Homo sapiens: one gene and its partners. The protein of the gene in region 3 interacts with the protein of the main gene of each other region in a pairwise test. Each region holds a gene or a part of one and is shown on either strand. Other genes may lie near its edges.

Evidence for each region.
Region 1: the proteins of MS4A13 (region 3) and POMK interact in binary tests that used the Homo sapiens proteins (3 or more experiments, as listed by UniProt).
Region 2: the proteins of MS4A13 (region 3) and TM4SF18 interact in binary tests that used the Homo sapiens proteins (3 or more experiments, as listed by UniProt).

Annotation. Positions count from the first base shown.
Region 1 is NC_000008.11:43,117,391-43,120,758, reverse strand, and holds part of POMK (protein O-mannose kinase), read right to left. Parts: intron 1-3,368. UniProt on the Homo sapiens protein: Protein O-mannose kinase that specifically mediates phosphorylation at the 6-position of an O-mannose of the trisaccharide (N-acetylgalactosamine (GalNAc)-beta-1,3-N-acetylglucosamine (GlcNAc)-beta-1,4-mannose) to generate phosphorylated O-mannosyl trisaccharide (N-acetylgalactosamine-beta-1,3-N-acetylglucosamine-beta-1,4-(phosphate-6-)mannose).
Region 2 is NC_000003.12:149,323,528-149,327,185, reverse strand, and holds part of TM4SF18 (transmembrane 4 L6 family member 18), read left to right. Parts: intron 1-2,163; coding exon 2,164-2,306; intron 2,307-3,658.
Region 3 is NC_000011.10:60,539,269-60,543,026, reverse strand, and holds the end of MS4A13 (membrane-spanning 4-domains subfamily A member 13), read right to left. Parts: intron 509-3,758; coding exon 452-508; 3' UTR 306-451; downstream 1-305. UniProt on the Homo sapiens protein: May be involved in signal transduction as a component of a multimeric receptor complex.

The DNA of each region.
Region 1 (3,368 bases), on a different chromosome or scaffold from region 3:
TTGCCGTAAGCCAAGATCACGCCACTGTGCTCCAGCCTGGGCAACAAGAGTGAAACTCTGTCTCAAAAAAAAAAAAAAAGAAAGAAATTAAGAAACAAGCAGGGTGTAATGGAGCGTACATGTACCCCCAGCTACTCAGGGGAGGCTGAGGTGGGAGGATCATTCAATATATATATATATCATGCGGTCACCAAAATGTATATATTTATACAGTTATAACAGATAAAAGTAATGGTACGGCTGGGTGCGGTGGCTCATACCTATAATCCCAGCACTTTTGGAAGCCAAGGCAGGCAGATCACCTGAGGTCAGGAGTTGGAGACCAGCCTAGCCAACATGACGAAACCTAAAACCTAAAACCTCTACTAAAAATACAAAATTAGCCGGGCATGGTGGTGCATGCCTGTAATCCCAGCTACTCAGGAGGCTGAGGCAGAAGAGTAGCTTGAACCCCAGGAGGTGGAGGTTGCAGAGAGCCAAGATCACACCATTGCACTCCAGCCTGGGTGAACAAGAGTGAAACTCCATCTCAAAAAAAAAAAAAGCAATGTTACAAATGAGAAGTATACAAAACCATTTGTATAATATTGTTCCAACTGCATAAAACGAGACAAATTTAAATTACAGCACATGGAAATCAAAGGAAATATGCTAATGCCTTAGTTGTCTTTATGTGGTAAGATTCTGGGTGATTTTTTTTTCCTTCATATCTTTTGGTATTTTCCAAGATGAACATATATTACTTTTACAACTTAAATTTTTTAACTCAAAAATATATAAAATTTCAGAAAAACTAACATTGGGAATTTAAAAAAAAAAAAAGAAAAAGAAATATTATATAAAATGGAGTTAGACCCAAGGACCATGAAGATCTTTTCTGGATCTAAGAAGGGAGGTTCATTATGGAAAAACCCAGATAACTTTGATTGGCTCATAACATTCAAATGAAAACTCTTTCAAGACTCTCTAATCCTCATATTTGAGAAATTTCACTAAGGATAATAACTTCTATTAAAAAGCTGTTTTTGGGCCGGACGCGGTGGCTCACGCCTGTAATCCCAGCACTTTGGGAGCCGAGGCAAGAGGATCACAAGGTCAGGAGATCGAGACCAGCCTGGCAACATGGTGAAACCCCATCTCTACTAAAAATACAAAATAATTAGCTGGGCGTGGTGGCGCGCGCCTGCAGTCCCAGCTACTCAGGAGGCTGAGGCAGGAGAATTGCTTGAACCCAGGAGGCAGAGGCTGAAGTGAGCCAAGATCACACCACTGCACACCAGCCTGGTTAGAGACTTCGTCTCAAAAAAAAAAAAAAAAAAAAAAAAGCTGTTTTTCACTCTGGCTGCTACATGCACTAAAAATTTCCTAATTTTTAAGGACTAGATAAGACCACATTCTAAAAGTTCAAGATTTTTTTAAATTTTCATATTGAACACACGCTCTCCATAGATTTGCATCCCACTGAATCTGATAATTGGCTCTAATACGAACAACTGAGGTTTTGTTCAGATCCATGGCTTCCTTACGCCCACCTCTGCATGGTCACCACCAGAACTGGCAATGGCTTTGGTTTTCTAGGCCCATTTTTCACCTAAAAACGATGCTGGCTTTTGGGAAGCTGCTGCTACACATTCAACAATAAGTGGGGGGCCGGCCGCAGTGGCTCATGCCTGTAATCCCAGCACTTCAAGAGGCCGAGGCGGGTGGATCACGAGGTCAGGAGATCAAGACCATCCTGGCTAACATGGTGAAATCCCATCTCTACTAAAAATACAAAAAATTAGCCGGGCATGGTGGCAGGTGCCTGTAGTCCCAGCTACTCAGGAGGCTGAGGCAGGAGAATGGCAGAATGGCATGAACCGTGGAGGCGGAGCTTGCAGTTAGCCGAGATCAGGCCACTGCACTCCAGCCTGGGCAACAGAGCGAGACTCCGTAACAACAACAACAAAAAAAACAGTAAGTTGGGGAGGCTCAGCCACAGGCCCCAGGGCTCCTGATCCCTCATTTGTGTCTCATTCATTTTTGTTTCAGATAAATGAAGATTATTAAATATTATTATGAAATACTATTAGTCTTTGAGATCACACACAAATATTTGAATCCTCCAATATAAAAAATTTGCTAGTCATGGACTGTTTAAGAATCATTTCTCACAACCTCTAATTTAGTTGCTTTTAATCATTTTCTAAAAGACTTTTATTTGGAAAGAACAGTTAAAATACTTTACTTTTTTATTATAAAATTAATCGTGAACACTTTTCTTGGTAAAAACTCAAATACAGAGGATAGGCAGGATGTCTCCCTGCCCCCAGTTTTACTTCCCGACCCAAAGGAAACCTGGTAACTGGCTGTCATCCTCCCAGAAGTTTTTCTATGCCTTTATTTATTAATGTACACTTGTAAAACAGCATTTGGGTTTGCTGTTATACTAATGGCGTTATAACATACATACATTGCAGCTCTTTTTTCATTTAACTGAGCCTCAGAAATCCTTTCCATATATACATGTAGATCTAGGCCATTCTTTTTAAAGCTGAGTAATGTTTCATAGTGTGGGCATAATACCTACACTTGTGTATTTCCAGTAAGCTTTTACAGATACTACTACCTTTTTTCTTTAAAATTAAAGTATAATATAATAAAAATACCAGGAATTTGGAATTGATGCTGTCAAAATAGACTGGATTCTTTCTTAAGATTATTATGTAGCTATAATTTTGTAAAGACCTTTAATAAGATCTTATATGATCTATTTCTAAAGACCTGGACATTTAAGTTAGTCCCTTTTCTAATGACAATGCTACAGTGTATAGCCTTATATTTACATGTCTATGTACATGCACAAATATTTTATAAGCTAGGTAGGCAGACAGAATTTACCAAATATCTATTGCCATCATTACCCTCCAAAGTCTGTGCTAGCATGCACTTTCACCAGCAGCGCATGATAGAATCTTAGGAATACACCCTTAGTCACACCAGATTATTACCACTGTTTGTAATTTGTGCCAATCAATGGATGAAAATACCTTACTCTTCTAATTTGTATTTCCCTGATTACTAATAAGGCTAGGCATTTGTCATCTTTTTAGGCATTTCTGTATTTCTGCTGTCAAAAGTCTGTTCACTGTCCTTTATCCAATTTTCTATAGGGTTGTCTGCCTTGTGCTTATTAATTACTGGGAGCTCTTTATATATACTTGACCCTTGAACAACACGGGTTTGAACTGCGCAGTTCCACTTACACACAGATTTTCTTCTGCCTTTACCACCCCTTGGATACCAAGACCAACCTCTTCCTTTCCTCCTCCTCCTCAGCCCACTCACTGTGAAAAAACCAAGGATAAAGACGTTTGCGATGGATGATG
Region 2 (3,658 bases), on a different chromosome or scaffold from region 3:
CTGAGGTCAGGAGTTTGAGAGCAGCCTGGCCAACATGGTGAAACCCCATATCTACTAAAAATACAAAAATGAGCTAGGCGTGGCGGCACGTGCCTGTAGTCCCAGCTACTCAGGAGGCTGAGGCAGGAGAATCGTTTGAACCCAGGAGGTGGAGGTTGCAGTGAGCCATGATCAGGCCCTGCACTCCCGCCTGGGTGACAGAGTGAGACTACAACTCAAAAACAACAACAAAACAACAACAACAACAAAACCCCAGCTTCTTCCAGGTCTATGGCAGGGTAAGCTCAAAATGAACCTGGAACATCTTGTGCCAGAAAGCAAGAAAATGTTCAAAGAATGACATGAGTATGTCAAAGGGCATAGGAGTTGACCTACAGGGATGTTCACATTGGCCGAATTTGGACCATCTGTGCATCTAAAAGAATAATCGCATTTATGGATTATAGCACAATGAATTAGAAGATCTGTGAGTCCAGAAAATATAGACAGAGGCAAAGGAGAGAGGAATGGGAAATGGAAGTTGTTCTGTGCAGAAAAATGATAACATAAATGCAGATAAATTATAGCATTATGAAAGCAGCACATTGGAACCACAGTGATTGCTGGTAATCAATGAATATGAGGATCATCAGTGGATGCTAAATCCATCAGTTGAAATGTTATTAAGAAACAGAATATGACACTGTCTCAAAGCATCACCTTGGCAGTTATTTACTAATTGCCAAGAGGAAAATGTACCTATCCAGGGAAGAGATCTGAAGGATACTCTTAACCAAGAGATCAAACTTAGCACCACCCTTAGCATGAAAGGCCCACAATGTACACCACACCCATTAAGTATTCTCGCTAAAATGTTTGAATTCAATTGTGAGAAAATAATCAGAAAAGCCCAGAATGTGAGACATCTACAAGACAACTGTCAGGGATTCTTAAAAACAGTTTAACACCCCAAAAAACAAAAAGGCAGAAAGACTAGTGTAAATTAAAGGAAACTAAAGAGATGTAGTCTTGTACATAAACCTTTATTGGATCCTGTACAAAAAAAATTTAAAAGTTACAAAATAATAGAATGTTTTTATTCTTAGGAGGTGTATGCTGAAATATTTAGGGGTGAAATATCATAATGTCTGCAACCTAATGGCTCAGTAACAAAAACACATAATAAATACATATTTGTATATATGTACAGGTGTACATATATACTTTGCATGAATATATACACACATACACACAGAGAAAGAGAGAAAGCACAAACAAATATGGTAAAATATTCATGTAGGTGATTCTAGATAAAGGATATGTAGGGGTTTATTGTGCTATACTTTCAACTTTTTTGTAGATTTGACATTTTTTAAGGTTGGGAGGAGGGAAGTCCCTTGCCCTGAAGGATAAAGTCCAGATTTCTTAACCTGGCATTCAAGGCCAGCTCTGGCCTGGATCTACCAAGCTGTACTCACTTTTTAAGCTACTCAAGGGCTGAATTGTGCCCTATCAACCTTGTTTTCCCAGCATTAGTACCATGTCAATCTGTCTTCAGAGCCTTTCTCCTCACTCATCTGAATAAACCCCTCTTAGATTAAACCTACTTTCTCACAACTCTGGTTGCACTGATCTGCCTGTGAATAACACCCATTCTCTCTACTCAAATGAAAACACCCCCCTCTCCATCAATCCTATCGTCACTTGAATATGAATATAAATTTCAATACTATACCTGACATTTTCCTTTATATTGTTGTAAAGATATTTTAATATCTTTATAAGAGGAAAGCAGAGGTCATAGCTTATAATTCTTAGAGAACCCACTCTACCTAGAAAATAACAGGTCTTCAATAGATAGTTATGGGTTGATTGATCACATCCTTCACTGCATTTTCATAAGAGGAGATCATTATTTTGATATCAAAATTCCACAAGGAAAGAATAAATTTAGTAAATTACCTAGTTACCTCTATGTGATGCCAAACTAAACGTTATTTAAAAGCTTATTTTTAAGATCAAATAGGTTTGGATTACTTTTTTTTTTATTTCTATGTGGGCATTTAGTATTGTATAGACTGCATGAGCTTGGGTGAATAGGGGAATGTAGCTATCTGATAATTTATCCACAATATCCCCTTGTCGCATTCTATGGTACTAACCTGCTTCTATGTTTTAATTTAGACACTGCTGTCAATTATCTTTTCTTCCCTCGGAATTGCTTTTTCTGGATACTGCCTGGTCATCTCTGCCTTGGGTCTTGTCCAAGGGCCATATTGCCGCACCCTTGATGGCTGGGAGTATGCTTTTGAAGGCACTGCTGGACGGTAAGGAATAATTCCCCAAACCAAGGAGGTCGGAAAATCAGAAACACCTTGCCTCATGCTCAAGCTCACGCTCATTTTCCATGATCACTTTGGGGTTCCATGTGGCTGTTTTAGTGCAGAATTTCCCTGTTAGTTTACTAATATCCAGACCAATTTGTTCTTGCACAGATCTTTGTTTAGATTTTTTTCTTCAGTCTTTTAATGCCATTTTCATTCAATGTCTTGAGGTTGTCATGGAGCTATCCAAATGAAAGGTGTGTTTCTCCCATACCTCAGATTAAAGTTGTGTGGTTACTATGGTCTGGTCTGGTAACAGCTGGAGCTTATGGACTGGGTGGATCCAGGAACTCAGTTTTGTTTTATGGCCAGGTTGGACATGTGGTCTGTTACAAGTGTAAAAGGGCTTGAGGAGGAGAGAAACCATGGTGCTCTTGGATGGTGCCACTCAGGGCTATAGTAGGAGGGATGATAAAGAGATAGAACAAGGCAGGATGAGCAGGAAAGTACAGTCTGAGGTCCAGGAACATGATTAGGTGCAGGAGTTTGTGGAATGAGCCAGAGCTTATGCAGCTTATACTGGAGAAGGGTCTAAAGAGGTAGCCTTGCTCAGAAGGCTAGTAATTCAGTCAGGAGTCTCACAACCCAATCCCGGATCTCAGAATGCCTCACACTGGCATTGTGCTGGGCTTATTGGGTTCCCAGCACCAGATGCAGATTAGGAGGTAGCAGGGCCCAGAAAGAAATACAGAAGAGGTCCAGAATTCTAATGGAGTAAAATGAGGGAATGTCTGTACCATTCACTGGGGGAAGTTAAATTTTCTTCTCAACTCTCCATGATTAGCTTTATTGTTCAAGGCCCATGTCCATCTGAGGTCTTACATGTGCATCTAGGCCTACATGGCAGAGCTGCTTCTGTGACTGTAGCTGCCTTCATTCTGAAGATTTTTACATGGTGCCATATACCATGACCTTTCTTAGCAAACATGACTCTCCCTCAGGTCTCTCCTACTTGCATATCCATTTATAGGCTCTCTGCAAGAAGAAAAATATGGCTCTTTTTGCCCAACCCCACAGGCAGTCAGACCTTATGGTTGTCTTCCCTTGTTCCCTAAAAATCTCTGTTATTCTGCTCTTTTTCAATGTGCACTGATTTCATATTGTTCAAACCACATGTTTTACAATCAATTTGTACAGTTAACACAATTATCACAGTGGTCCTGAGGTGGTGTACATCCTCAACTTATGAAGATAACAGGATTAAGAGATTAGAGTAAAAACAGGCATAAGAAATTATAAAAGTATTATTTGGGAACTGATAAATGTCCATGAAATCTTCACAATTCATGTTTCTC
Region 3 (3,758 bases):
TTTGATTCATACTTTGATAGAAGCTAGTTAAAGTAGAAGAACTCAGACTGTAAAATGTGCTTTCTGCTTGTATGGACATAAGTATTTAAAGTTTTCCTGTGAATTATACGACATCATGGCCCAAGTCTTTATAGCCTTCACTCTAGAGATAATAATGAATCTTTTTTACAGTCTCTTACAAAAGCTTTATTATGGAGAGTTGACAGCTATTCAGCGTACCTAGATAACACATTCATCCTGTAATAATCTCATATTTAAATAGGGAAAAACTTTCCTTGCAGCCTAGAAAAATATAAGCAGAGACATTTTTGAATGAGGAGAAAAATTCACCTTGTTTGTATTTTATTTTGCACAAAATCTGTAGGCTTCGTAACTGCTTTGTTATACAGAGATATCATTAGGACCCACACCAGGCATCAGCAACAGCAAAATTCTCATATTTCTAGGGTTTTTAAGGAGTGCTCTCAGCTTCCTCAGTAACAGATGTAAGATCATTTTGTCTTCGAAACTGGAAAAAAAGTAACCTCTTACAAATCATATCATGTTTCTTAATATTATACAACTAATAAATAGATCTTTTTCTTAAAAAATACAGGTAATACTGATATTTATAGAGTGAAATCTTAAAGTATCCTATTTCTGTCCCATTCCTATTTCAACCTTATTTCTTTCTTCCTTTCTTTCTCTTTCTCTTTCTTTCTTTCTTCCCTTCCTCCCTTCCTCCCTTTCTTCTTTCTTTCTCTTTCTTTCTTTCCTTTTTCTTTCTTTCTTTCTCTTTTTCTTTCTCCTTCCTTCCTTCCTTTCTTTCTTTCCTTCCTCCCTTCCTCCCTTTCTTCCCTTTCTTCTTTCTTTCTCTCTCTCTCTTTTTCCTTCCTACATTCCTTCCTTCCTTGGGTTTTTTTTTTTTTTCAAGGTCTTGTTCTGTTTTCAAGGTCATGTCGCCCAGGCTGGAGTGCAGTGGTGCGATCTCGGCTCACTGCAACCACCTCTCTTTCAGGTTCAGACTCAAGAGATTCTCATGCCCCAGCCACCCGAGTAGTTAGGATTACAGGCCTGTGCCACCATGCCTGGCTAATTTTTTTGTATTTTTAGTAGAGACGGGGTTTCACCATGTTGACCAAGCTGATCTTGAACTCCTGGCCTCAAGTGATCCTCCTGCTTCAGACTCCCAAAGTGTTATGATTACAGGTGTGAGCCACCATGCCCAGCCTTCAACCTACTTTCTTAATTTCTGTTGGATCACTTGTATCTTTTGGTGTACCTTCAAACTTTTATAATAAAAATAACCATAGTCTTCTTGAACATAAATCTTAATAGATGCCAGCACCCTAGCCTCTCATGACATTTCTCAACCATTACCTATTCCTTCCCTTCAAGGTAATGGTCATTTTGACTTTTAGATAAGGTCAATTTTTTTTCTAGTTTCATGAACTAAGCTTCATCCCTAAACACTATAGGTTAGCTTTAGTTTTACCTGGTTTCAAACTTCATATGAATGGATTTTTTTACAAGTATGCATTCTTTTGAGTTTTTATACTCAACATTTTATTTGTAAGATCCATCCATGATGTTAAGTGCAGGTATAGTTGCTTTTAATCACCATGTCAAATTTGAATGAAGTAATACACCTCAACTTATTCATCACTCACCCACCTGTGTTGTTTCCACTTTGGGACTACTATGAATAATACTGCTCTCTATATATTCCTGGAAGTTTATCTTAATGCATAAGCGCAAACATTTCTGTTGGTTATATACCAAAGACTTAAATTACTGATCATAGGGTATGCACATTTTAATTTTTAGTAGGTAATGCCCAAAAGGTTTTAAAAATTGTTGCAATAACTTATATTTCAACTAGGAGTTTGAGAGATATTTCTTTTATCTACAATCTTTGCTATCAGTTGGCATTGTCAATAGTTTGAAATTCAGTCATTCCAGTAGGTACTTTAAAATATCTCTGTCATTTTAATGTTATTATTACAATGAATAGATTTATATCTGACATTTTATTATTTGTTTTATACACGTCTCATGTGTTTTCTTTTCCTTTCCTTTTTTTTTTTTTTTGTGAGATAGGGTTTTACTCTGTCACCCACACTGGGGTACGGTGGCCTGAATATGGCTCATTGCAGCCTTGACCTCCTGGGTTCCAAGTGATCCTCCCACCTCAGCTGCCTAAGTAGCTGGGACCACAGGCATGTGGCACTATGCATAGCTAGTGTTTTTATTTTTACTTTTTTGTAGAGATGAGGTCTCGTCATGTTGCCCAGGCTGGTCTTGAACTCCTGGGCTCATATGGTCTTCCCGAGTTGGCCTCCCAAAATGCTGGGAATATGGGTGTTAACCAACCAAGCCTGGCCATTGTGTTCTTTCTTTATTTTTTAAAAATTAAACATACTTTGTGTATGTTAATTCCCTTGTTTTTAAGCTATTATATTTTTAGCTTGCTTAATCACTAAATAAGCACCCTAATTTATCACAGTCTACTTCAGATGAATGCTAATTCAATTCCAGTAAAATACAGCAACTTTATTCCCATATAACTCATTCCCTTTCCTTTTCTTTGTGCTATTATTGTCATCTATTCTATCTATATATATTATGTAACTACCAATATGGTGTTATAATTACTGCTTTTATAATCTTATCTTTTAAAATTTAAGAGAAAAATTGAGAAACTGTCTATTGAAGAAGGGTTGGCAAGCTATGATACATGGACCAAATCTAGCCCACTCCCGTTTTTGCAAATAAAGTTTTGCTGGAACAAGCCATATCCATTCCTTTATGTATTGTCTATGAATACTTTCATGCTAAAAGGTGGAGCTGAGTAGTTATGACAGATGGAATTAATGTTACTAATAACACGACCTTAAATTAAGGTAATCATCCTGGATTACCTGGGTGAGCCCAATGCAATTAATGCTACTGTCTTTTAAATCAGTTAACAGAAGAAAACACAAAAGATGTATTTATACTGATTTTCATAACCACCTACATAATTACTTTTACTGGCACTTTTTTTATTTATTCATGTGCATTTGAGTTTCATCTGATGTCACTTCAGTCTAAAGAACTTCCTTTAGTGTTTCTCATGAGGAATTTCTGCTAGCAACACATTATTCATCTGTGTATGTCTGTATTTCACCTTCATTTTTGAGGGATAGTTTTAAAGGATAAAGAATTCCTGCCTGACTGTTTTTCCCCCTGCACTTTAATATCCCATTCCACTACCTTCAGGCCTCCATTGTTTTGGATGAGAACCCAGCTGTTTATATTATTGTGGTTCCCTTATATATGAAGAGTCTTGTTTTTATTTTTTTTTGCTGCTTTCAAGATTTTCTTTTTTATCAGTTTGACATGGAGGTGTCTAGGAGGATCTCTTTGTGTTTATTTTACTTGAAGATCCTTGAGCTTTTTGGATGTATTGAATGTTTTCCATGAAATTAGGGGAATTTGGGAGCCATTATTTCTTTAATTTTTTTTCTGGTACTCCCCATTTTTATGGGACTCCCATTATACATGTGATGGTATCTCAAAGGATTTTGAGGTTCTGTACAGTTTTCTTCATTTTCTTTTTTTCCTGTTCTTCGGACTGGGCAATATCTTTTTTGCTCTCTTTATGTCTGTTTATTTTGTTTTTTGTCAGCTCACCTCTGTTCTTGAGTTCCTCTAGTGGTTTTTCATTTCAGTTCTTGTATTTTTAAACTCTAGAACCTCCATTGGGTTTTTCATAATTTCTGTCTCTTTTATTGACT